Linked DNA regions of Homo sapiens. The protein of the gene in region 3 purifies or fractionates together with the protein of the main gene of each other region. This does not show direct contact. Each region holds a gene or a part of one and is shown on either strand. Other genes may lie near its edges. The genes, in order: MYOT, TNNT3, MFGE8, IDH2, MYH6, FABP3 and MYH15.

What was found.
Region 1: the proteins of MFGE8 (region 3) and MYOT purify together in Homo sapiens (co-immunoprecipitation; one large-scale study listed by IntAct). This does not show direct contact.
Region 2: the proteins of MFGE8 (region 3) and TNNT3 purify together in Homo sapiens (co-immunoprecipitation; one large-scale study listed by IntAct). This does not show direct contact.
Region 4: the proteins of MFGE8 (region 3) and IDH2 purify together in Homo sapiens (co-immunoprecipitation; one large-scale study listed by IntAct). This does not show direct contact.
Region 5: the proteins of MFGE8 (region 3) and MYH6 purify together in Homo sapiens (co-immunoprecipitation; one large-scale study listed by IntAct). This does not show direct contact.
Region 6: the proteins of MFGE8 (region 3) and FABP3 purify together in Homo sapiens (co-immunoprecipitation; one large-scale study listed by IntAct). This does not show direct contact.
Region 7: the proteins of MFGE8 (region 3) and MYH15 purify together in Homo sapiens (co-immunoprecipitation; one large-scale study listed by IntAct). This does not show direct contact.

The regions. Positions count from the first base shown.
Region 1 is NC_000005.10:137,870,860-137,874,359, reverse strand, and holds part of MYOT (myotilin), read right to left. Parts: coding exon 3,353-3,500; intron 1-3,352. UniProt on the Homo sapiens protein: Component of a complex of multiple actin cross-linking proteins. Involved in the control of myofibril assembly and stability at the Z lines in muscle cells.
Region 2 is NC_000011.10:1,929,703-1,933,202, reverse strand, and holds part of TNNT3 (troponin T, fast skeletal muscle), read right to left. Parts: intron 3,399-3,500; coding exon of another isoform or gene 3,394-3,398; coding exon 3,375-3,393; intron 735-3,374; coding exon 689-734; intron 1-688. UniProt on the Homo sapiens protein: Troponin T is the tropomyosin-binding subunit of troponin, the thin filament regulatory complex which confers calcium-sensitivity to striated muscle actomyosin ATPase activity.
Region 3 is NC_000015.10:88,903,380-88,906,879, forward strand, and holds part of MFGE8 (lactadherin isoform a preproprotein), read right to left. Parts: intron 3,400-3,500; coding exon 3,247-3,399; intron 2,523-3,246; coding exon 2,378-2,522; intron 784-2,377; coding exon of another isoform or gene 737-783; exon of another isoform or gene 1-736.
Region 4 is NC_000015.10:90,099,669-90,103,672, forward strand, and holds the start of IDH2 (isocitrate dehydrogenase [NADP], mitochondrial isoform 1 precursor), read right to left. Parts: upstream 2,801-4,004; 5' UTR 2,723-2,800; coding exon 2,608-2,722; exon of another isoform or gene 2,464-2,607; intron 954-2,463; exon of another isoform or gene 908-953; intron 1-907. UniProt on the Homo sapiens protein: Plays a role in intermediary metabolism and energy production. It may tightly associate or interact with the pyruvate dehydrogenase complex.
Region 5 is NC_000014.9:23,384,274-23,387,773, forward strand, and holds part of MYH6 (myosin-6), read right to left. Parts: coding exon 3,485-3,500; intron 3,381-3,484; coding exon 3,256-3,380; intron 2,351-3,255; coding exon 2,042-2,350; intron 1,859-2,041; coding exon 1,655-1,858; intron 769-1,654; coding exon 643-768; intron 445-642; coding exon 169-444; intron 1-168. UniProt on the Homo sapiens protein: Muscle contraction.
Region 6 is NC_000001.11:31,364,753-31,367,414, forward strand, and holds the end of FABP3 (fatty acid-binding protein, heart), read right to left. Parts: coding exon 2,641-2,662; intron 1,188-2,640; coding exon 1,134-1,187; 3' UTR 501-1,133; downstream 1-500. UniProt on the Homo sapiens protein: FABPs are thought to play a role in the intracellular transport of long-chain fatty acids and their acyl-CoA esters.
Region 7 is NC_000003.12:108,507,797-108,511,957, reverse strand, and holds the start of MYH15 (myosin-15), read left to right. Parts: upstream 1-1,361; 5' UTR 1,362-1,370; coding exon of another isoform or gene 1,371-1,427; coding exon 1,428-1,515; intron 1,516-4,161. UniProt on the Homo sapiens protein: Muscle contraction.

The DNA.
Region 1 (3,500 bases), on a different chromosome or scaffold from region 3:
AAGTAGCTGGGATTACAGGCACCCGCCACCATGCTCAGCTAATTTTTGAATTTTTAGTAGAGACGGGGTTTTGCCATGTTGGCCAGGCTGGTCTCAAACTGCTGACCTCTGGTAATCTGCCTGCCTGGGCCTCCCAAAGTTCTGGGATTACAGGCTTGAGCCACCGCACCCGGCCTGCAGGGACTAATCTTTATTAATCTATTTAATGTGAGGAAACTAGCCACTGCCCTCAATGAGTATTTTACCATTATTATAATAAATGTTCTCTGGCTATCCAGATGAGACAATCTTGGTCTCTTCTCTGAAATGATCCTTTCCAAATATTCTCAAGGATCATTAAAAGGACTTGTGAGCTAAGTATAAATGTATTTCCTCCAAGTAGGGCCAGAGTTTTAATTTTTACTGGCTTTGGGAACTTGGTTAGTAATCATTAGATTGTAAACATTCTGGAGAAAAAATATGTCTTATTTGTTATCATTATATCATTTATATCCACGAACACAGAGCATGGGTATAGGAGATACTATCAGTTGAGTGAATGAGTGATTTTCATAGTATTCAGGACACTCTATTGAAAGCTAATGATACACATTTCCTCTCCTGACATTTCAGGTCTTAAGATCTTTATGGTTGTCTATATAAATTTTTAAAGTCTGATTTGTTCAGTTAATAGCCAAACAAAATGTTTTTTAAAATAGCGATTTTTTTTTTAAAGATTGAATTCCTAGATCAAAGTGTCAAAATCTCTTTGGCCTTATAGATCTCATATTTTTTCAATCGTATAGAATTATAATAGACCACTTTTTTTTTTTTGAGACGGAGTTTCATTCTTGTTGTCCAGGCTGGAGTGCAATGGCATGGACTTGGCTCACTGCAACCTCTGCCTCTCTCTATGTCTCCCGGGTTTAAGCGATTCTCATGCCTCAGCCTCCCAGGTAGCTGGGATTATAGGTGCCTGCCACAACACCCTGCTAATTTTTTTGTATTTTTTTTTTAGTAGAGACAGGGTTTCACCATGTTGGCCAGGCTGGTCTCAAACTCCTGACCTTGGGTGATCCATCCACCTTGGCCTCCCAAAGTGCTGGGATTACAGGTGTGAGCCACACCTGGCCTAGCCTACTGTTTTTTTTTTTTTTAAAAATGCTAGCTTATCATCTTTATAAGTCACACATTTGTTAATGTGAATTAGCATTAAATAATTGTTTTTAGACTTGTCATATCTGGGAAATTCTGAATATATCTGAGAAGTCCTGAAGGATTATCAAAACCAATCCTGAGAATCACTGATGTATATGTAACCTCAGTCACTTTGTTCACTGAATACTCTCATTATTCCCAGTTTAGGTGGATTAAGTGTTACGACTTGATAAATGCTCCCATTTACAAACTAATAGTACGTTTGCACACTGCTTTATAGGTCCTTTCTCTATCATTAATTACCTAACTCTTTAATATTGCTACAGACCAGAAAATTGAAGCACTGGGTAGGTAAAGTGCTTGCTGAATTTCACATAGCAAGCTTTTTGGAAGGAACAATTGAGTTCCCCTCAGTTTTCAGTCTGTGGTTTGATCAACTGGGTAAAATGTTTGCCTAAGAGCTTCCTATTGATGAAAATCTAAATAAAGCTTTCAAATTTCTCTAGGTCAGAATCCAAGGGATTATTTTGGAAGTCAGGGCGAACTGGAGCCCATAATAACGAGGGAGTTGTGCACAAATGTTCAAAGGGCCAGGGCTTTCCACTCTGCACAGCTGGACACGAAATGGGTATCAAGTAGCTATGGGAAGATTAAAGAGTTATCTGTGGTTGCTGAAAATGGAACAGCTAAAGTGGATCTTTGATCTCTGGTTTGGGGACCTCCTAGGCTTTATTTCTTATTATGTTTTTGCCTTTCTCTTTTCTTAAGTCTTTGATCACTTTCTTTTCTGGGCAGTAATTTGAAATATGATTGAAAGACTTTACTAAGAAAAACAAAAAATTCTTCTAGATTTTAAAATGCTAATATAGGAAATATGGAAATAATAGAAAGCTAGATGGAAAATGATCATCTGGGTAAATATAACCAAGAAAGATCTATATATTATAAAGGGAATTTGGGAGGGAAGAGAAAGAAAGGGCTCTCAATTATTAAAAACATCCTTTTAAAATATTAGGTTAAACCTGTGAGAATGCCATTTTTGTAGGTCAAAAACAGTTGACTATCAGCCATTTCAAATGGTTCAACTTAATATCTATAGGATTCTAACAAATGTTTTTGGTTTTCCTGATTTTTATTTTTTAAAATATTGAAAAGGTTTTTTTTTGCAAGTTGAATTGCTATAGGCAGTTCAACTAGATTTCCAAAGTTGTCACCAATAATAGGAGTTTGTAGAAAAATTAGCCTCTAGAGAAGACTGCGAGAAATTAGCAGAGTTGAGTGAATGTATTAGTAAGCCTGCAACAAAACATATTCCATCAGACAATTTTTGAGATGCCTCTGATTTAATTCTCTGATGTTCCAGCCAGCCAAGGAACAGGAAAGCTGATAGCCAATAGTTTGCATAAGCACAAGGTATTCAGTTCATGTTTTAAAAAAAGCATAACCACCATCTCCTTTTTCATACTAGGTTCTCCTAGGACAGTCTTAGGGTAGTGGAAATAGCACATGTTTACATAAGGCCCCAGTATTAGTCCCTGTATTTAGATCAACCCAACTAATTTGAACAAGGTGTGGTTTTAATTACCAAACGAAACCGTAAGGTCATAAGCCTTCATCTATTCAGGCCTTCCTTCTTCTGATCACAGTAAGGAAAATGTATACATTCCAGGGTCTGAGTTCCAGGTTTTTTTATTTGTTAATTTAAAAATTTTTCAGCCAAGTGGATATTCAGGATTAGAGGGGAAAAGGGATAGGAAGAAAAGACTGAGAAGAAACTTAATAGCCTCTGCTTATGTGAGAGGAAATCCTATCTGAAGAAGAGCAGACAGGTGTTCATCTTAGCCAAGCCCAGAACCAGAGGAATTAAATTTACAGCATGAGGAGCTTAGCTTAGAACTAAAGGAAAAGTTCATTGTTCTTTGGTATGTGAGAAATTATTTTTTTCAAAGATGGAAAATAATGGGTAAATAATTTTATGGGGTAATAGGTAATTGGATTCAGCGCAGCTTGGACACTGGAGAATAGTCAGATGACCTCTTATTGCCAGTACCCTGGTTCAGCATGTTCTAGTAGAACTATGGAATGAGACTGTAAGGTCACATTGCCTTTTTAGATAGTAAAGAATGAACTGCAGCATACCCCCAAAACTCCTACCCCCTCGCAAACTCCTCAGATATAAGTTCACTGTACATGCGGTATATAAAAATTCACTTACTTGGAATCCATAGCGGAAGGGATTTTACTGCTATTGTAATCAGGCTGTGATGGTAATATGGAGCTGAGGAAGCTGGCTGGGGACTGGTTATAGGTGGTTGTAACCCTTTGGCCTGGGTTGGAGCCAGCATGCTGCTGGGGAGAAGCAG
Region 2 (3,500 bases), on a different chromosome or scaffold from region 3:
TAATGGTAGAGGATGCGTGGATGGTGGGTGAGTGGGTGGGTGGGTGGATGGGAGGATGAATGGGTGAATGGGTGGGTGGGTGGGAGGGTGGATGAGTGGATGGTTATGTGAGTGAGTGGATGATAGATGGATCGATGGATGGATGAGTAGATGAATGAGTGGTATGAATGGATGGATGGATGGGTGGATGGGTGGGTGAGCGAGTAGGTGAGTGGAGAGATGAGTGAGTGGATAGGTAGGTGAGTGTATGAATGGGTGGTTGGGTGGGTGGATGGATGGATGAATGGGTGAGTGGATACGTGGCTGGTTGGATGGATGGAAGTAAGGCAGGATGGATGGATGGATGGATGGATGGATGGGTAGGTGGGTGGTTGGGTGGATGAATGGATGGATAGATGGTTGAGTGGATGGGTGTGTGGGTGGGTGTATGAATGGATAGGTGAATGGGTAGGAGCTTACGTGGGTGGGTGGATGGATGGATAGAAGGATAGATGGAGGAGAAGGGAAGAGAGATGCTTATTCTTAGAGGGGTTTCCTCTGGCCCAGGAATAAGCTATGGTAGAATTGCCCAGACCCAGGAGGCCCCGGCTCTGGCTACTTGGGAGGAAGTGACCTTCTGAGGCCTAGAGCCCAAAAGCTGGGGTGTGGGGAAACCGTGGACATGTTAACCAGAGTCCTGTAAACTTACATCGAAGTCCACTTTCTCCCCTTCTGGGATCTTAGGAGCAGTGAGTCTGAAGAGGAGACAGAGAGGCCCGTGAGCAGAGACCCGGAGACCCACCCCAGAGGGTCAGCCTGGCGCTTTCCCCGCTGGCCCCTGCCAACCCTGGTGCCCTCCTGCTCTGGCCCCCAGCCAAGCATGCCCGCCTAGTGACACGTTTGCCCCAGCTTTATTCTTATGAGGTTTGTAGCCCACCATCCTGAGAGTGGCTTGAGCCCCTCAAGAAGGCTTCCGCTTCCAGCGCCACCGTCTGCCTTTTGGCTTCTGGCCATTGCAATGTCACTGCACCCCAGCTACCAGGGAGGGCACCTCTGTTTCCTCCTCAAACAGATAAACAAATGCAGCCATGTCGGGTGAGAAGCGATGGCCACTGTGGGTGGCGGTGGCCTCCCTGGGCAGGAATGGCTGCTGCGAGCCTGTGCCTTTCCCCAGCCCCTCTTTCATCTTTCTCTCTGGGGGCCCAAAGGAAGGAGGAGAGGGGGCTGGGAAGAAAGCAATCTGAAGGGGAAATGAGGCCCCCTCTCCGGCTGGGTGTGCAGTCCCCTCCTCTCACCAATACATTCCAGATGCAGCAAAGAGTTAAAACAACAACAATTTTTTCCAACAAACCATAGAAGAAAGTGGAACTAAATATCAATCAGAAACTGGAGCAGGAAAGGGTTTCCTAAGCTCAGGAGCACCAGAAGGTGCCTCTAAGGGAAAGAAGGCCAGATGACACCACGCAAATGAAAAACGTATGTATGTGAAAAAAAAAAAAAAAACGGAAAATGGAAAGGCAAAAAAAAAAGACTAAAAAAAATTTTCAGCAAATACAGAGAAGACTTATATCCTTATGCAAACTGATGACTAAGAAAACACAGAGATTCCTCCACCAGGAGACAAATGAGCAATGGCCGTAGCTACGAGTTCTCAGAGAAGAGACGACCCATCCCAAACTCAGGGAAACGCTGGCCCCGAGTGACTGTTAGGGCGCAAAGCCAAAGAATCATGAGGTGCCGTTTCTCATCCATCAGAGGCTGCAATGTAAAAGCACGTTCCTGTCCCTGGGTGAGGAGGGTGTGGGACACAGACCCGCTCACATCCCACGTAGGAGACGGCGTTGGCCAGGCCCTTGTGGAAAGCAATTTGGCAGTGGATGTCAAAGCCTTAAGAACATTCATACTCTTTGACCCAGTAATTCCAGTTCTGGGAATGTGGCCTACGGAAATAACCCTAAAGATGGAAAACGCTTTCCAACCAGCGTTATTTATGATAGTAAAATATTGGGGAAAGCCTGCAATAGGGGAATGGTTAGGAAAATTATGGTTTGTCCAATTGATGGAATATTATGTGGCCATTCAAAATATTTAAGAAGACTGTGTAAAAACATGGAAAAATACTTATGAATAGTGCTAAATTTTAAAAAAAGCAGAATTCAAGGCCGTAGAGACGGTATGATGTTTGAAAAACAAGGCCGACTTTAAATCTTTTTTTTCCAAGCGCTATGCATGGAAAAAAGGAAGAAATAAGGCTTTTTATTTCTTTCTGCTCTTTTCCACAGTCTGGCTGGCTGGGTGGGAGAATTATAGATGACGTTTTTTCTTCATTTGACTTTTATATATTTTCCAAATTTTCTTTCATGAGGTGTCTTATTTTCATAATGAAAACACAAACAATTTTTCTAAAATGAGAAAATATCTCATGATCCAGCATTACTGTACTTAAAATCACTGAAAAATACAGTGCAAAGGGTGGGAATACGCCGGCTGTACCCTTCAGATGTTCTCACTCTTCTGAGAATCTGCAATGCTCCCCAAGTGGGAGCCAACAGTGAGTGTGTGTCAAGATGCTCTAAGATTCCACTTCGCACAGAGCAACACACAGGCAAGAGCACTCGAGAGATAAAAGGGTGAATCACGTAGCGAGTGCTGTGGCTGGTGAATACCGATCAAAAGCAGAAAAGTCAGAAGAGCTGCATTAAAAAAACCAACCCACGAAGTGCTCACAAGCAGGTGCGATGAGGACAAGCTCCTCTGAATTCTGCCCCAAAGGGGAGCAGGGGCCCCTGCACAGTGAGCTCTTCTGGACACGGTCAAGGTGTCATTCTGAAGTGGGTTTCTGGGCTGAGTCCCCCACCTTTCTCCACTTCCGGACTCACTTTCCTGTCGCTTTTCAATCTAGGACTCTGGGAGTCCTAGAAGTATGGCGGGGCTTGGTGTGGTCCCCCGAAGGCCGTGGGGTGTTGCGGTGGCCAGACTCCCTGCACCAGCTGCCCCGCCTTCCTTCCTCAACTCTCTCCCACCCACCTCTCCTCCCTCCTTCCTCGTCTGCAGCCTCCTCCTACAGGAAGCCCTCCTTGTCTGCACTGGATGACCCTGGGCAAAATCACACCCTGCTGGGCCTCCCAAGCCCATCTCCCAGGTGACCCTCATCCCTCCCACCCTGCGCTCTGAGCGTCCCTCCGAATGCAGGCTCCAGGCATCTGGCCCTGGCCCTCTCCTCCGCCTCCACCACGGAACACACGAGGCGCTGGGCCTGCCAGGACCCCACACTCACTTGGCCACCGCCACCCCAGAACACACTCGGCACTGGGCCTGCCAGGACCCCACACTCACTTGACCACCCCCACCCCAGAACACACTCAGCAGCGGGCCTGCCAGGACCCCACACTCACTTGGGTCTCGGTTTCTCCTCTGGTCCACACAGCACCAGCGTAGGGAGAGGGACACCAGCGTGGGGAGAGGGAGAGAGACAGCCTGGGTGAGACTGGGCGGCCTGCGGCCCTGGGTTCCCCTTCACT
Region 3 (3,500 bases):
GAGTAATTCTCACAGATCACCTGGGGATCTTGATATAAAAAAAAAAAGCTTATGTTTCAGCAAGTCTAGGCTGGGGCTTTCAGTCTGTATTTCTTTTTTTTTGTTTTTTTGTTTGTTTGTTTGAGACACAGTCTCGCTCTGTCACCCAGGCTGGAGTGCAGTGGCATGATCTCGGCTCACTGCAACCTCCACCTTCTGACCGGGTTCAGGCAATTATCCTGCCTCAGCCTCCCTAGTAGCTGGGATTACAGGCACCTGCCACCACGCCTGGCTAATTTTTGTATTTTTTTAGTAGAGACGGGGCTTCGCCATGTTGGCCAAGCTGGTCTTGATCTCCTGACCTCAGGTGATCCGCTCGCCTCGGCCTCCCAAAGTGCTGGGATTACAGGCGTGAGCCACCGCACCCGGCCTCAGTCTGCATTTCTAAGAAGCTCCTAGGTGATGACACTGCGGGTCCCTGGGGCTCTTCACCCACCAAGCTGCCCCTCCATCTCTTGGCTCCAGCTCCACTGGCCTTCCTTCCACCCTTCAACATGCCCCAGGGCCTTTGCATTTACCAATTCCTTGCCTGCAGTGCTCTTTTTGCAGTGCTGTTTTTAAGTTTTTCATGTGGCTGGCTCTCCATCATTCAGGCCCCCAGTCAAAGGCCTTCCCGACAGAGCAGTCCTTGTCTTGCTCTCTCCCCTCACCCCAAGTCATGGTCATCTCATCAGCCTCTAGCTTTTCTTCAGAGCTGTTACTGCTCTCTGTCATCTGCTCCTCGCCTCAAGTCTGCCTTCCTTGCTACAATGCAAATTACATGAGGTCAAGGAATCATTCCCTAGAGCCAAGCACCCAGGAGGGGCTTAATCAATATCTTAATAAACATCCATCGAATTAAATAATTAATTTACCAAAGACACCATATGTCTGCAAAGAGGAATCCCTTGTGGAATCCCAGGTACCCCCAGACCTCAGCCCCACCCACACACATGCACACGTGCACACATGCACACATGCACCAACACTCTCCAGCCGACTGGAAGGCCTATAGGGAAAGGAGTGGTCCAGACCCTGAAGGAAGCAGACAGGGTACCTGGGCTTCCTTGGTTTGCAAGACTCACCCTCTCTTGGCCCTGAGCAGGGGCCAGTCATGCCTGGATACAGGCAACTTTAATGGCCAAAGGCTTCAAGCCAAAACAGCAAGTGTCAGGGACTCCAGGGAGAGGCACACAGACCTGGCTCTGTCCTTTCCCAGTAGCCTACATTTCCTTCTAGCAGAAGGCAAAGTCTTATACTCCCCACTGAAACAATACGGCTCAAAAGGGCCCCTGGTGGAGGAAGCATACCTACTCAAGTTCATACTAAAAACACTGAACCCAGCCAGGCACTGAACTCAGCTCTGAGGGGTATTTGGGTGGTGTCTGAAATGAGACAACAGGAAGAGGTGTCACAGAGGGGAAAGGCGGGGCACAGGAGGGCAGGTAAGATCAAAAGGCCAGCGGGTAAGATAAGAACCTCCACTCTGCAGCTCTGCTTAGCGAGCCCTACAGTTCCACTGATGGCCAGCAGGTGGCATTGTGGCTGCAAAGAGAGAGAAATACCCAGACCTCAGGAAAGCTGGGTTGAGCTGGGCTGAGACAATTAATGTCTGTCAGCCCAAACCCGGCACTCTGACCTCGCCCAGGCTGTCCCCTGGCTCTGCAGAAATCTGTCCCTTTATGGTCTCCCCAGCTCTTCATCTGGGAATCTCTTTGGAAAAGGCAGCAGGAAGCACCAGCTCCAAGCCCTGTGGTCCAAGAAGCCCCTGTGTTTCTCTGGAGTGCAGACTCTTAAGAGTTTGGCAGGGAAAGCTCTGGATGGGTGTGGTCGGGAGCCCAGAGATCTAGACCAAGTCTTAATACCTACCAGATGTGTACCCTTAATAAATCATTCATCGGGGCCCCACGCCCCTCATTCATTCATTCGCTCATTCATCAAATATTTATTGAGTACCTATAAACCAGACACCATTCTAGGCCCTGGGAATACCGAAGCAAACAAAACAGACAGATTCTCTGCCCTCGTAAAGCTGACATCTGCCAAACACACCTAACGCTACATGTTCTAGAAGCTACAGGAGAGGAGCCAACCAGAAGAAGGGAAAATACTTTGAAAACTGATGTCTTTTTCTCTATCAATCAGAATGCCCTGGGTCATGGGTTGGCAGACAGCAAACACCTGGGTGGGGCTGCTATGGCCAGGTGACCCCCTAGAGTGCGTTGCCCGAGTGAAGCCTGGTCCCCGTGCCTTGTTGCTGCCCTACCTAGCTCAGTTTGGCTGAGAAAAGAGGCAGCAGGGAGGGCCACCTCCTAGGATTGGCCAACAGTGCCCCCCTACCCGCACCCCCAGCACTCACCGTTCAGCTCACAGCCCAGTAGCTCAAAGCGCAGAGTGCAGGCCGTGTGGCAGCTCGTGGGGTACAATCTCACGTACTGAGCCTCCACAGGGGTCTCAAACAGGTTGACATGCACCGCGTTTTTGTTCCAGTTACCCACAAACTCCTAGCAGGGAAGGGACAAGACTGGAGAAGGGGGTCCATCTGAGCAGTCCCCCTCCCTGGGGTTACCTCATCTTCCTCTTCAGACCTGGGAGGCAGAGGTGGGGCTGGGAGGGTGAAGAGGACTTGGAAGAGCCAGCAGAGGCTCACACAGCAGCCTCTCCTTTGGCCACCCCACGGCCCTCCACAAAGATTCTCCTCTCACTTTCCTTAATCATCATGGAGCCTGGGCATAAACCCCTATAGCTGACACAGGGCCACCTGTAACCTACAGGGTACCTCTTTGCAAATTAGGAAAAGGCACTCCTTTCTCAAATAGTTTATTATGACAATTTTCTGACAGAGTTCCACAAATGTACAATGCCTGTACTGTGAATGGTGCCTGCTTAGCAATGACATCCTTGAGCAGTGTACAACCTACACAACTGTACATGTACCCATGAAGGCTCAGAATGAAACCCAGCTCCACCACCACTATCACCCTCAACAGGTCACTGTGCCATTTTGAATCTCACTAGTCTCATCTCTAAAGTGGGACTATTGCTTATAAACCACAGAACATGGACACAGTCTGGGTTTCCCAATTTCTAGAAGCCAAGATGCACCCGAAGACCCACATCATAGCCAATCACCTAGGGTTCTCTGGACTCGCTGGGGGTCCTCAGTCAATGCTAGAACCTTAGGGGGTATGGACCACAGCCCTTCTTTCGGGCCCCAACAAGACCTACCTTGTGTTTTTTATTAACATCATGGATGAAATCGAATTCGTGTCCATTAAGGCTGTAGGCCACCTTGAAGGCCTTCAGGTACTCATGACTGGCCAAGCGGCTGGCACCCTGCGTCACCACACCTGTTACCCACATCCTCCGCAGCAGGTTCACCTGGACACAGGGCAGGGGAGATGGCACCCTTATCTCCTGGGTTCTTTCCACTCAAGATCCAAGCAGACCCATCCCTTCACTCCCCCACTGGGTGGGGGAAC
Region 4 (4,004 bases), 1.2 Mb from region 3:
GCTGGTCTGGAGCTCCCAGCCTCAAGCAATCCTCCCACCTCAGCCCCCCAAAATTCTGGGATTACAGGTGTAAGCCACAGTGCCTGGCCTTCCTTAGCTCTTGTACCCATATATCATACTAGTCAACATCTATCTTGCTTACTGTCTGCCCCCTCCCACATCAGAATTTGAGCTCCTAAGGGTTTTGAAAGAGTCTCTGCTGGTTTTATTCCCAGCTCTATCCCCAGCACCCGGCATGGTGTCTGGCACAAAGTAGGAGTATACTACTTTTGTCAAAGACATAAATAAAGGTCAAGTTGAAGTCAACTCCATCTGTGGTCAGGGCTGCCCTGCCCTCACCTTCTGTTTCACTGAATGTGTTTCCTCCCCTCTCACCCATCTGGTATGCATTGCCACACAGGGGCCAGTGAGTTCTTACCAGCAGCCTGCACCAGATGTACACGGGTGGCATCTCTCTCCAGCAATAGGCCCCATGCCCTGAAGAAGCTTACAACCTACAGTGTACTAATATTTGCAATCTGCTGGTATTTTTAACATGGGTTTACAGAGTATAAACCCCAGGGAAGGCCACAGACCCTGGCTTCCAGTAATCTGAGAGCAGTTTCCAGCACCTCATACCCTGAATGGAACCAGCCCAAGGGCCCTCAACTTCACACAGAAGATGTGGGAGCAGGCCTCAGCCATTCCAAAGAGGCTTTTCCTCAGTACCTACTAGGCCTAAACACAACCACCCCAATCAGCTCTGGCAGGGCAGCTAGGGCCTTATCTGACGTGGCAGAAAGATCTGCACACTTAAGGGGCAAGAATTAAGAAGTTTCTGGGTTAGGAGTGAAGGAAGGCTAGATAAGTAATTCTGCCACTGAGCCGTTCACAGAACTGGTCCGCACTGCCCCAAGCTCTAACTTACCAGAAACATCACCAGCAGTCGCTGGAAGCCTATGGCGTTGCAAAATAGGAAAAGATGCGTGCAGGAATTACCAGGCAGCAAAGACACGGGGCTCTTTTAGCCCCAAAATATTCTTTCCTTGTCATCAAGGGGAATGCCAAGTATTCTGTCTCCAGCTGCGTTGCCAGGTAACAAGCTGGCAGAGTCGCAACTGTAGAGTCTGATGTCCAACTCCAACACCAAGCAATTTCCCCATTCATAACCAACCCACATGGGGACTTCTAGAAGGGCCTGCAACTGACTGCTTTTTCTGTATCCAAATTCAGGACCCTTAAAAGGCGCTTTGTGTTCCTGTTTGTGTGTGTTTTTCGGGTTGTTTGTTTCTTTTTTTTTTTTTTACCATCAAGGCAGAAAAAAAGGGAGAATTAAAGAATGTGGCTAACTTCCACCATATTTTTGCTGAAGGTGGTGTGCTATATGGGAATCTTTGGGTCCTGGGGCACTTGGAACCTGGGAGTTGTTGGGCAGATCCCTGAGGTAGATTCCCAGAGGTACAAAAGCAGACATGCCCCTTTCTCCTTGGCAGGGAAGGTAGGACTGGGGCCCAAGCCTCCCTACCCCCCCGGCTCTAGTCAGCTGCTCCCACAATCCGGTTAACCATTACCTCCTCTGGCCAGGTCAGGGCCAGCGGGCCCCATCCCCTCTTCCTCACTCTCCTGGCTCACTGCAAGGGGCTCCTGGCCAGATTAGGATAGGGGTTTCCATGGCAACAGGCATTAGGCAGGGCCAAGGGACCTACATTGTTCCCTGCCTTTTGTAGCTGTGTTGGGTAGCCAGGGTGAGGGGGCAGGCCGATGCCCACACGCCAAGCAAGGCAGCCTGCGTTGGCAACGGAGGCTCGGGCTAAGTCTTGCTTATTACGACCCGACTACTGTCTTCCCTCCTAAGCAGGGAACTAAGGGTACCCAGAAGCCGTGGGAACGATTCCGCAAAGTGACATTTTGCGCGGGCTGCCAGGTCTCTGCGGCGAGTGAGCCAGGCAGGGAGGGCATGTGCCTGCCAAGGCAGGTCAAGTCAAGGAGAGGCCCCAGGATGGAGCCTCAAGTGCAGCGATGAAGGCGAAGGGGTGGGGGTGGGGGCGGCCAAACAAAAGGGGAAAATTAAAAAGGACGCTCCTCCAGCTGTCGTGTAAAAGGCTCCAAAAATAGCTGACGTGGGCCTGGTATCAGCGCGCGCCTGGCTGAAAAGGAAGGGGAAGTGCATGTCTCCCGCCTCCCAGCCTTTGTCTGAGCAGGGGCCGAGCCACGACCCTCCCTCTCGCCAGGGGAGCGCGCGGGGTGCTCCAGCCCCCCACGGGTGCTCGTCTCGTTCCAGGGGCGCAGGGCGGGCAGGCCACCCTTCGGGTCCGGGACACTCTCAGGACCCCCTCCCGAAATACCTAGGGGCGCGCGGCAGCCCCGAGCCCCCGCCCGCGCAGAGCTGGCCGTCGCCCGGGCCACCAGTTGCCACCGTCCCTCAAGTCCCCACCCCAGCGCCTGGCACGGCCGGGAAGCGCCGGGCGGGGGAGCGCGGAGCGAAGCTGCCCCGCGGCCCTTTGTGCGCCTGACCCCGCCGTCCCCGGGCTGCGGGCTGGCGGGACGTGCTTCCCGGCCCCAGCCTGGGAAGCCGCCACGTCGCAGCTGGGGGCGCGCGCCTGCCTGGACCCTCCGCGCGGCACTCACAGTGGCGCCGCGGCTGCTCTTGCGAGGTGGGGGCTGTCAGGGCCGCCGGCGCCCAGGCCGGCCGCGAGCCTGAGGCTCTGCAGAGCGAGCGCACGACCCGCAGGTAGCCGGCCATCCCAAGCTGGAGAGCGAACGAGCAGGGCGGGAGAGGTCCGAGCGCGCGCCGCTCCTCCCGGCTGCCTGGCCGCGGGCTAACGCTGGGCCTGGCGGGCGCTGGCCGCGCGGGCACCACCGGGGCGGGGCTGCCGGGCCTGCCGCCCCATTGGGCCTTGCCGGGGAGGAGGCGGGGCCAGGGCCGCCGACGCCTCCAGCGTCCCGCGGGAGCCGGGACCCGGCGGCCAGGCCCGGCTGGTGCTTCTCTGGGCGCCGCTGAAAGCCCAGCTCCGCAGGAGCTACAGGCGTGAGACCCACCGGGACCCGCGAGCGGGATCAGGGCTGGGGGATTAGCAGAGCCGCTTGCGAGGCTGACCCTCTCCAGGATGCCCCATGTAAACCTGGATGTCAGTTTCTGACGCTTTAGCTTAAACCCAAAAGCCAATCTGAGCGAACTCTTGCTTCCCTCGCCTGCCGGGCTGAACCCAAAGGCGCATTAGCCCAGTGCGGCTGCTTCATTCTTGAGCTAAGACCGCCGGCGGCGTCTGCGCCTCCGCGAGTCCGCTGTCAGGTCCAGCTGGTGTAGAGAGAGTTGAAATCTCACTTTGGGCCGGGCGCGGTGGCTCACGTCTGTAATCCTAGAACTTTTGGGAGGTCGAGGCAGGCGGATCACTTGAAGTCAGGAGTTCGAGACCAGGCTGGCTAACATAATGAAACCCCTGTCTCTACTAAAAATACAAAAATTGATCGGGCATGGTGGCGCGCGCCTGTAATCCCAGCTACTCAGGAGGCTGAGGCGGGAGAATCACTTGAACCTGAGAGGCAGAGATTGCAGTGAGCTGAGATCATGCCACTGCACTCCAGCCTGGGCAACAGAGTGAGACTCCGTCTCAAAAAAAAAAAAAAAAAACCACGAAAAAAGAAATATGATTGGACCAGAAGGCCAATAACCTGAGTGGGGAAACCCAGCAAGTCCTGTCCGTGTAGATTCTTCTTGACCTTTCTCTGCAGCATTCCTTCCTTCTGAGTACGGGGCAGGACTCTCTCTGGGATGGAGGGGTCTTAGGACCTGCAAGCAAACAAGGTAGGTCAGATAATTTATGGCCAGTTTTTACCCAGAAATGTGTGGGAGAAAGAGTAATATTTTTGGGTTCGATGTCTGGCTTTGGGGGAGAAGGGCTCTGGTTTCTATGACCTGCCTTGAGGAAGAAGGATTCCAGTTTCTATGGCTGGCCTCGGAGGAGAGTGAGGGGCCAAAGACAGGAGGGAGGGAGAGGGTCAGAGAGAGCTGCTCCTGAGGCCTG
Region 5 (3,500 bases), on a different chromosome or scaffold from region 3:
CTGGAAAAACTCATAGACTCAAGTCAAACTGACTGCAGAGCGTGAGAAGAACGTTAAATCTACCAACAGCATCTCAAGGAGGAGGTGAGAGGAGCCCTGTGAGGGCGGGGCAGTGGGGCCAGAGAAGAAACTTCCACATCTACTCCTGGTGTCTGGCGTCCGCCGCACCTGGTAGGTGAGCTCCTTGATGCGCCGCTCGCTCTTCCTCATGCCCTTCACCGACTCTGCGTTGCGCTTCTGCTCGGCCTCCAGCTCACCCTCCAGCTCCCGCACCCGCGCTTCCAGCTTCTGCAGCTGCTTCTTGCCTCCCTTGAGGGCGATCTGCTCGGCCTCGTCCAGCCGGTGCTGCAGGTCCTTAATGGTCTGCTCCATGTTCTTCTTCATGCGCTCCAGGTGGGCGCTGGTGTCCTGCTCCTTCTTCAGCTCCTCTGCCATCATGGCGGCCTGTGTGCAGGAGAGAGGTGGCAAGGAACATGGGCCAGGGGCCGGGGCCTTTTGCCCCCCAAGGATCTCCTTTCTCCCATCAGGCCCTCAAATCCACAGAACTGCAGAGTTGGCTTGGTGTTACAGCACAGTGGCCTGGCCTGGACCCAAGGCCTTGTTTCTGTCTTTAGGGGAGGCGGAAGGTGGGCGGTCACTTACATCCGTGATGGCCTTCTTGGCCTTCTCCTCGGCGTTTCTGCACTCCTGCACTGCCTCCTCCACTTCCGACTGGAGCTGGGTCAGATCCGACTCCATCTTCTTCTTCTGGTTGATGAGGCTGGTGTTCTAGACATGGAGAGAGAAAAATGATCAAATATATACTACACTTTGTTACCTGATTTCATACCCTTTCTCCAGAAAGAATTAAAGGTGGTCATTTTTTTTTTAAAACAACAAGCCCACTTTTAGACTATTGATCGTTTTGTACCTGCTTTCCCTTTTCCTATGAAAGTGCATACATTCTAGACATTGTATCTAAGATTACTAAACTCTGAAAAAAGACTTCAAATAGCAAAAGGTCTGCAGTATTACCCTGGAGCTCTTTAGCAACATGTTTACGTAGGAGCATGACAATATTCCAAGGAAGATGGAAACAACTTTTTACCAGGACAATATTCCAGAGATGTTTATAGCTATACCAAGAATGTAGTGGGGTAAGGAAGAGGGGATGAGGTAAGTGGATGATGTCATTCTCACACATACTAGATTAAAGAACAAAACTCCACAGGGCACTGCAAAAGGTGAGCACAAAGTCTCATTGCAGAGTATAACTGAAAACAGTGTGGGTGGGATTGCAGAAAATGGTGTTCTAGCCAGCTTGGTTTGCAAGAGATGCAGTTATGCTTCTTTAAACTCCCAAACTCTCATCTTTACAGAGCAAGCCGGAGGCTGTCTTTCAGATCAAGAATATCAAATAACAGGATACATTCCACTACTCCCAGATTTGTGGCTTTGGCAGGTATCAGCAATCAATCATGACCCTCTTAGCTTCTAAGTAGAGACCGCTTTCTTAATATAATGGTTCTGCAGCCACCACAGATGAGAGTTGGCCTAAGAGAGGAAATGATTTGTGACCCTGGCTAGATGTGCTCACTTAGAACATCTGGCTTTTCTAGATGTCCTGGGCTCTGCACTCAGTAGGTTTCCACAAGGTGGCTCCTGACCCCCTCACCTGGGAATGCAGCAGCTGCACCCGCTCGCTGGTCTCAATCAGCTCCTGCTCCGCCAGCTTCCGGGACCGCTCTGTCTGCTCCACCACGGCACGCAGCTCCTCCAGCTCAGCCTGCAGCAGGTTGTTGCGCCGCTCCACGATGGCGATGTTCTCCTTCAGGTCGTCGTTGGCACGGACCGCATCGTCCAGCTGGATCTGGGTGTCCTGAGCATCAGGAGAGTGGGTGTGAGCAGAAGCCAGCCTCGGTGCCCTTCACTGAGGGCACCTGTCAGAGGTCCCTGCAGTAACCCAGGGGCAGGAGGAATCTGGTGCCTGTATCCAGACACCACTGCTTCTCCAGGCCACATGGAGGCCAGTCCCCTGAGGGGACCTCCCGCCCCCATGTACCTTCAGCAAGCTCTGGAGGCTCTTGACTTGCTTCTGGGCCTCGGCAGCCATGCGGTTGGCGTGGCTGAGCTGGATCTCCATCTCATTGAGGTCTCCTTCCATCTTCTTCTTCACCCTCAGGACCTCGTTGCGGCTGCGTGTCTCTGCATCCAGGGAGGTCTGCAGCGAGTCCACCACCCGCTGGTGGTTGCGCTTGGCCTGTTCCATCTCCTCGTCCTTCTCTGCCAGCTTCCGCTCGATCTCTGCCTTGATCTGGTTGAACTCTAGCTGGGCCCGGAGGATCTTGCCCTCCTCGTGCTCCAGGGAGGCCTGGGAAGGGGTGGGGCGAGGGCGGGCAGACAGGGCACAGGGCAGGGTTGAGAGGGAGGATGAGAAGATACACGGTGTCAGCCAGGACTATCGCCCAGAGAAGAAGAGCTGAGAAGAGATGGGGAGGTGGGATCTGCACCCCATGCCCACCACGGTGCTATTGGGGAGAAAGTGCTGGACTCTCTGGGCTTCCCCTGTCAAGAAAAGGGTTTGGACCTCACAATTGCCAGACCCTCCAGCACTAACACTGCATAAATTCCTGACCTGTCTAAAGTATTATAGAAAATGGAGGAATTTTTATAACCACAAATACAAAATTTTATCTTGTTTTCCAGGTCCCTCACCCTTTCCTGAGAAAAGTTAGAAGCCCAGAAAACTCAGGGCTATTCCCAGGTGCTTAGAAATGAAGAGTAACAATAGCTAATATATATTAAGTGCTTAAATGTGTTACCTCATTTAATCTTTATAATAATCATGTGTAAAATCATATGAGGTATGTACAGTTAATTCCATTTTACAGATGAGAAAACTGAGGCAGAGAGAGATTAAAGATTTTGCCCAACGCTGCAGTGAAAGTCCTCAAGCTGTGTTCCAACTCAGGCCTGTTTGACTCTGGAACCCCACACTCCTACCCACTGTCTAAGTGGTTATTATTATGGCCAGATTCCAACTTTTAAAACCTGGTGGGAAACAAAACCTTTGGCCTCTAATCAGACTGACATTTTCCTTTGTGCAGACCTTGGCTTTGGAGGCAGTCATGGGTAGTGAATAGTGGGTAGATAATGTTGAACAAAGAATATGGAATGAATAGATTTTGTCCTGGGGTCAGGGTCACCCCCAGGTGAGGGAGAAGTGGGAGACAGCGGCAGAACAGGGATGGGGTGCAGGGAGTTCTCGGCCCTCACCTCTGCCTCCTCCAGGGCTGACTGCAGCTCCAGCTTCTCCACCTCCAGCTGTTTGCGGACCTTCTCCAGCTCATGCACATTCTTTCCTCCTTCTCCTAGCTGCTCAGTAAGGTCCGAGATTTCCTCTGGGGACCAGAGGGCCAGAAAGCTCAAAGCCTATGTTCCCCCTGCCCCTGCATGGCCCTCCCTCCCACCAACTCATCTCTGGCCTCTTGGACCCCCAGCACACCCTGAAGGTTCTTGTT
Region 6 (2,662 bases), on a different chromosome or scaffold from region 3:
ACAGCTAGAAAACAGTCTGCAGTGTGACTTAACTTGTGTATTGCATTCCAGCAGACCACTGAACCAGACAGCGAAGCCAAGATCATTGTTCTACTTTGTATTTACTACTGTGTGAATCAGTTGATTCTACTTCAGGTCCTTGCTTAAATTCCTGTCACTAAATGGAAATGTGTTTGGTTTTAAACTTACTGAGTTATTTTTCCTATAATCCTTCTTCCTGGGTAACTTACAGACTTAAAGTCACTGAGCCTGCATTAGCTGACAAAAACATTTAATATGTTACCTTAGACCTTGGAGAGATGCCCAGCAGAGGTACAGAGCCAAAGGCACTAGCAGATCACTGCCTTCTTGGGAGATCACTTATAAGCCCTCCCTTTTGTAATGATCAGATGCCCTCTTCCCTCAGAGTTGATTAGAGAAGCAGTAAGAATTTGTAGTCATAAGTACTAGCCTGGTGCACAGGTCAGCAGTCCTCTTGGCCAGTGGTCATTTTCTCCCACCACCATGGTACAAGCCTGGGTTCTGTGCCCTGAACCTGAATTCTGGAAAGGGAGAGACTACAGCATTTCACAGAGAACAGCCAGACCCAAGAGCTTTCAGTGTAGGATGGGCCTGAAGTGACAGTTCAATAGCCAAACCTGGGGAAGCCCCATCACTGACTGAACTAGGTCATTTGACCATGGAGGGGGGGCAGTGTAAAGGCAACGTGTAGGTACAGCTCTTTTATTATTAAATGTGTAAGGTGATCAGCTGATTAACAGGCTCCGAGACTGTCCATTTCAGTCTCCCATCCAGTGCTTCTTCCTCAGTAACCTTCAGGCCGTTATTTCTGCCCACTCTCTGACACACAGGATAAACCAAGACTCCCAGAGTTATGTTACCAAAGGCAAAAAGGCAACTGGGTGGCCTTGGCTCTGCTTTATTGACCTCAGAGCACCCTATGAGTGCAGTTAAAAAAAAAAAAAAAAAACCACATACACCATGGGAACTGGAACTGGATCCCGGTCAGTGGCACCTGACCCCAGAAGAATTCGTGGATTTGTACAAAATGCAGAGGAAGAAATGAGGCAATGTGGTGCTGAGTCGAGGGGTAGCCGATTGGCAGAGTAGTAGTCAGCAACAGTGCAGTCAGGTCATGCCTCTTTCTCATAAGTGCGAGTGCAAACTGCAGTGCCGTGGGTGAGTGTCTGGAAGGAAAGACAGAGTGAGATGGGGGGTGGAGCCAGGAACACCATTGCGAGCATTCTACCCTCCCTTCCTCCTGATAATTGTCACTTGAGTACCTACTATGTGCCGGCTATATGTATGTATGTGTGTGTGTGTGTGTGTGTGTGTGTGTGTGTGTGTATACATACATAATTTTTTTTTTCTGATATGCACAGCAAATCCTTAAGATAGGCATTGTAATTCTTATTTTAGAGATTTGGAAAAAACGAGCCTTTAGAGAGGAAGTAATTTGGTCAAGATCCTGAGTGTTTTTCCTTCCCTTATACCATTTGGCTTCCTTCATCCTTAGTGTCTAAGATGGTGCCTGGCATATAGTTGACAAATAGGAAAAATATCCAGAGACTCAGGAAAGGACTGTGTTTGGCTACTAACTCCAATCCTTCCCTAACTTAGAGTAGTGCCAGGGCCAGAGCCCTGTACCTCCCACTATCCGGTCTGGCATCATAGAGCCAGACCCATGGCCTCACCATAGTTCAGCTGCCACTGAGAATTTGGTCCTGCATATCACATCCCCACCAAAGCTAGGCACCTCATTCCAAACTTCAAGGGGACCCCTGTCCCACATGAGTACAAGAATGCAGTTAACAGGTTATGCTGACCCAAGAAGGTGTGCAGTGAAGATGCCTAGGTGAAAACCTGAGGCCCTGTGGTTAGGCAGAATCCACAGTTGGCTGCTCTCCCTGGGTCTGGGGGGAATTCAGTCAAGGCTAGATTCTCCAAGTGAAGTCCCCAAGCTTGAACAGATCTGCCAGCCTGGCTGTGGTACTTCCTACCCAAGCAGTAGTCAAGTAGTTTCAGTAGGCCAGACATAGAAAGCATGAAAATGGGGTAGGACTAGAATGGGGAAGAAAGGACTGTACTGTCATTCAGTGTCCCCACCAGTCACGAGCCTGTCCCTGCAAGTGACAATGCAGTCCTAGGGAGGAGAGGAAAGGGAATGCTGAGATAGGCAATGGGAGCCCCTCCTAGAGGGCCTGGGATCAGATTTGGCCCTGTTTTCTACTTCTTCCTGAGGTGAGGCAAGGTAGAAACACAGGAAGAGCAAACAAAGGACATGGAGCACCTGCTGTGTTCCTCAATCAGTGATGCTTTGTGCTGTGCATACACTGTCTCTTACAGGCTTCCCAGCAGCCCTACAAGGTTGGTATTATTAATACCCGTTTTACAGTTGCACTTGGAAAAGGTGATTTGCCCACAGTCATGTAGCCTATAAGGTAAGATTTGAGTTCCGGCCTGTGTGAGTCCAAAGCCACTACACAGAAAATTCCCACCTGATACCACCCTGACCCACAACCACTCTCTTGTCCCAGCTTCTACAGCTCTCAGGGGAGGACTTGGCTTTTTAGAACAGGCTTGGCTGAAAGAGCAGTAGTAATAACCAATCAGATATAGCTCCAAAGTTGCCCATCTTACCAGGATGAGTTTTCCATCAATT
Region 7 (4,161 bases), on a different chromosome or scaffold from region 3:
GCTGGCAGAAATAAAACTAACTCTTAGCCTGAACCAGTAGGCTTTGCTTTAAATCATACTCCTTTAAACTAGATCCTACAAGTGGTATCACTATACCTATCCAAGCCACCACAAAGAAGAGAGCAGATTAAGTGCAGTAAAATACATTAGTTTATTGGATTTGTTCATTGCAAGATAGTAAGTGATTACAGTTCATTCTGAAGTGGGTGCTGATCTGTCCTCAAAGACAGCACCTGAGCTAAGCAAACTTGGCAAGTCCTTCTCTACCTTCTTACCTATAAATGTGATGAGTAACACTTGCCTTGCATGCTTGAGTGAAGAGGAAGACTTTTTTTGTCCAAATAGAGAGAATAGCTTCTCATTTAAGATCATGAAGGCCCAGTTTCCATTTCTTCTTCTCCCTGTTATCAAATGTAAAGTGTGAAAATTAAAGATAAACTATGTCCAGTGTTTGGTATACAGTGGGTGCTCAGTGACTTCAGCCTTGGTAATTTGTCCAGCAACTTAGTCCCTCTAAGACTGATACTTGCCTTGCTTGAGCCAATGAACTTCTTTATTTATTCCAGCTTCACTCACATCACCATGTAACCTGCTTGCCACCTTCAGCCTGGGCTTCTTCATTACTGCTCTTGGCCAGGCCTCCCAAATGCCCAGCTGTGCCTGTATTTTTGTAAATCATTTGCTCCCAGACACTTATCTCTGCCAAGATACTTATCTTTTTATCCCTTTACTGTCTATTACTGAACATTTATCTGAATCACTTCTCTTTGTAACCATACTCTGTCTATAACGGTCTGTCTGCTTGGGGGTAATTAGATACCTCGAAACCCCCCTCCACGCCTATCAAAGGCCTAGTGTCCGCAACTTGATGTTTCTCCATCTGGAATATCCTACCACCTGTCAGAACTCCATGGCGCAGGGTGGCATTATGACTTTCACTGACTACAGGCACTTCTGTCTTTTAAGGACCATTTCTCCACAAAAAAATATTAAAAATCAGATTTCATAACTGTGTTGGCCTAAAGATGAATATAATCCAGGCTCTGTTCATTAATATGTATCATTCATATTACTTTTATATTTTTCTTCTGATTTAAAAATAAATTAAACATTTTCATGGGCCCCTAAAAGCATTGTGGGCCTCAGGCACTGTGCCTTCTATGTCTAGTGGGTAAGTCAGCCCTGCTAGAGTCAGATATTCTTGAGTCCAATTTTGTATAAATTTGAGACATAGCGAAGAGAAAGAAGGGGCACAGGTAGTTACAGGAAAACTTAACACTCTTTAGTCTATCTATGTGAATGGTTGCTCATTTAGAGCTTGATGCCTTATTTCCACTTTTTTCTTCTCTGTATCAATTTTTTTTTTTCAGGTTGAATCTTGCCTACTCACGTTTAGGGCCTTTTTTTGGTGGATTGCTTTAATAAAGATGGATCTGTCAGACCTTGGAGAAGCCGCAGCCTTCCTCAGAAGAAGTGAAGCTGAGCTGCTTCTACTACAGGCCACAGCCTTGGATGGTGAGACATGTGGTGGTTGCTGGCTTCACTTTATTTTGCTCCTTCAAGATGGTGACTAAGATATTTGATTGACAGAGAAGAGCCATCAGTTCTAGAGCCTAACTTATTTGCTTAGGGTATGATCAGCCTCTAGGAAACTGAGCAATTGAGGGCCTCTGAGTATCCAGGGTAGGAATGGAAGTACCCACAGAAGAGGAGGGTGGCTGGGAGGCAGTCTAGGCCCGGGCCCTACACACTTGATCCTAAGACAGATTTTCTCTTCAAGGAGCCCCTGTTGTAACACAGACACCTGCAGGAATGGCCAGACAAAGCCTTTCCTAGAAACCTCTTAGTTATCAGTGAATGCCACAGTAGAGAGAGGGGCCTGTGACTTAGACTGGTGGGTGGGGTTTGTACATTGTGGGGAAGAAGAAAGGGAAAGACTCTGGTAAGGCTGCAGACTTTGAAGTTGTCTCTGGCTCTCCAGAATTTTTTGATGTTGGAGCCTTGCCTCTAGCGGTCTTCTAGGTCAGCAGGGTCACTCAGCCAACACTAAGCAAAAGGTAATTAGGAGACTTGCTCACCCTGATTCATAATTCCTTGGTAGTTACAGGCAAGGACAAAGGTTAATGAGGATTTAGCCTTAAAAAAAAAAGGCTAAGTTCTACATTGAAATCTCTAAATAAATGTTATTCTTTTTCCTGCTACCTTTACATGTCTGTGTTGAATTTCAGCTAATTGGAGATTTAGAAATCAGATTCACAGTATGATATAACATGAAGCTACCTACATGTCTTAATCCAAAATTATTCAGCAGTGCAACATAAGGACTGGCTGAATGTCGTTCTAGTATTCAGAATTAGTCAACATTAGACTTTAATATGACCAATTATAATTCAAGCCAGTTATGGAGGATATTATATTTCCATCACAGACCAGTCCTGGATCAGTTCCCAGTTTCCAGTCATTGGATTCATGACTGTGATTGGATTTTAGGCTAATTATAATCCATCAAATCAAATACGATAACAGAACTATCCCTGAGGTCAGAACTGGTCATGCAGAGGCTTATCGCAGGTAGTTAGATAATGGAGGACAAGATAATAGTGATGCCAGGAAGAAAAAAAAATTGAGCCTAAGCATTAGAGATAATTGGATGATGCATTTATTAAAATCAGCACCATAAATAATTACTTAAAACATAGCAATCTACATAATTTCCTGTTAATTTTTTGGACCAAACAATCCTTCCTCATAGAAATGCACTGGCAGCAGAGACAAGTGTTAGCAAAAGTTGTTCATCTTCCCAGGCTGGTAGACAATGGAGTTTGCTTTTTTGAACTCGGGTCAAATGGAAGTAGTGTGATGACGAGTATTTAGCAGGTAGTCTTGGGATCAAATTCCCTGTCCTTGACCATCTCTGGCTGGGTAATTAGAGCAAATCACTTCACTTTATTGAGCCCTGGTTTCCTCATGTATCAAAGGAGATAATAATACTTGTCCGGTCTGCCTTCCTCCATTGCTGTGGGGACCAAATGAGACTATAAATGTGAAAAATAAATATAATGCATTATTATGATACCCGAGAAGGAAAACTAGAATTCCTGGGTGACAGTGAAGAAGCCCAGGTGGTTGTAGAGCTAGGACAAAACACCATTCGAAAGCCAAATGTAAATAATTCTTATATTAGAACATGTAAGCGATCTATTTAAAATAACTATAAGACTGAATATAGTATTACCCCTGTTTTAATCAATATCCTAGAAAAAAGATTCAAAAGAAATGCTTCAATACATAACAGTGGTTATCTCTGAGTTGTTTGATTATGGGTGATTAAAAACATTCTTTTCTTCATACATTATTCTTCAAGTTTTCTTCAATAAGCACATATTAGCTTTATATTGGAAAAGATATTTAATTGTCTAAAAAATGGAATCATATAGAAAAAGGCCTACTTTACAGATGAGAATACGAAGGCCAAAAGAGATGAAGTCATGTGGCTTTATATCTTTTTACCAGCAAAGCCAGTGTTAAAATCCTGGCTGCCTCCCTCAAATCCATTGCTATCTACATTTCCAGCTCTGCATTATTCATGAACACCAGGAATTAAAATTGACAGAGTTCATTTACTTCATTTTTTAAAATGTCCCTGTCAGGGTTTGGGTCTCCTATGAGAAAGGATTTCTGATAATTTTTATTCCCCACTAAGTGTTTCCAGGGGTGGTAAGAGAGAGACTTCATCATGAGGCAGGTGGTGAGCCTACTCCTGGAGAGAAGAATTGGAGGAGAAAAAGCTAAGAATGTGTTAGAGGAGGCAGGCTGTAATGCAGGAGCACTGATTCAGGAGGTGGATGATCTCATTTCTAGAGTCATTATTGTAGTGACTGCCACTAATTAGCTATGTGACTATGGGCAACTCTCTTCATCTCTCTCCCAAGGTTCTTTTTCTAAAAAGAAAGAGAAAGAGAGACAGAGGGAGAGAGACTGTGCCAGGTGACCTTCAAGTTTCTTTCAAGTGATAACATTTGGTTTAAAATGCAGAGCATTTTACCTTAAACACACACACAAAATGTATGCTAACTGGGTGCTTTTCAAAAACAAGCATATTTTCATAGACATAACACAAAGCAAAATCAGTTTTTGCAAAAAGGGACCAAAATAATGAAT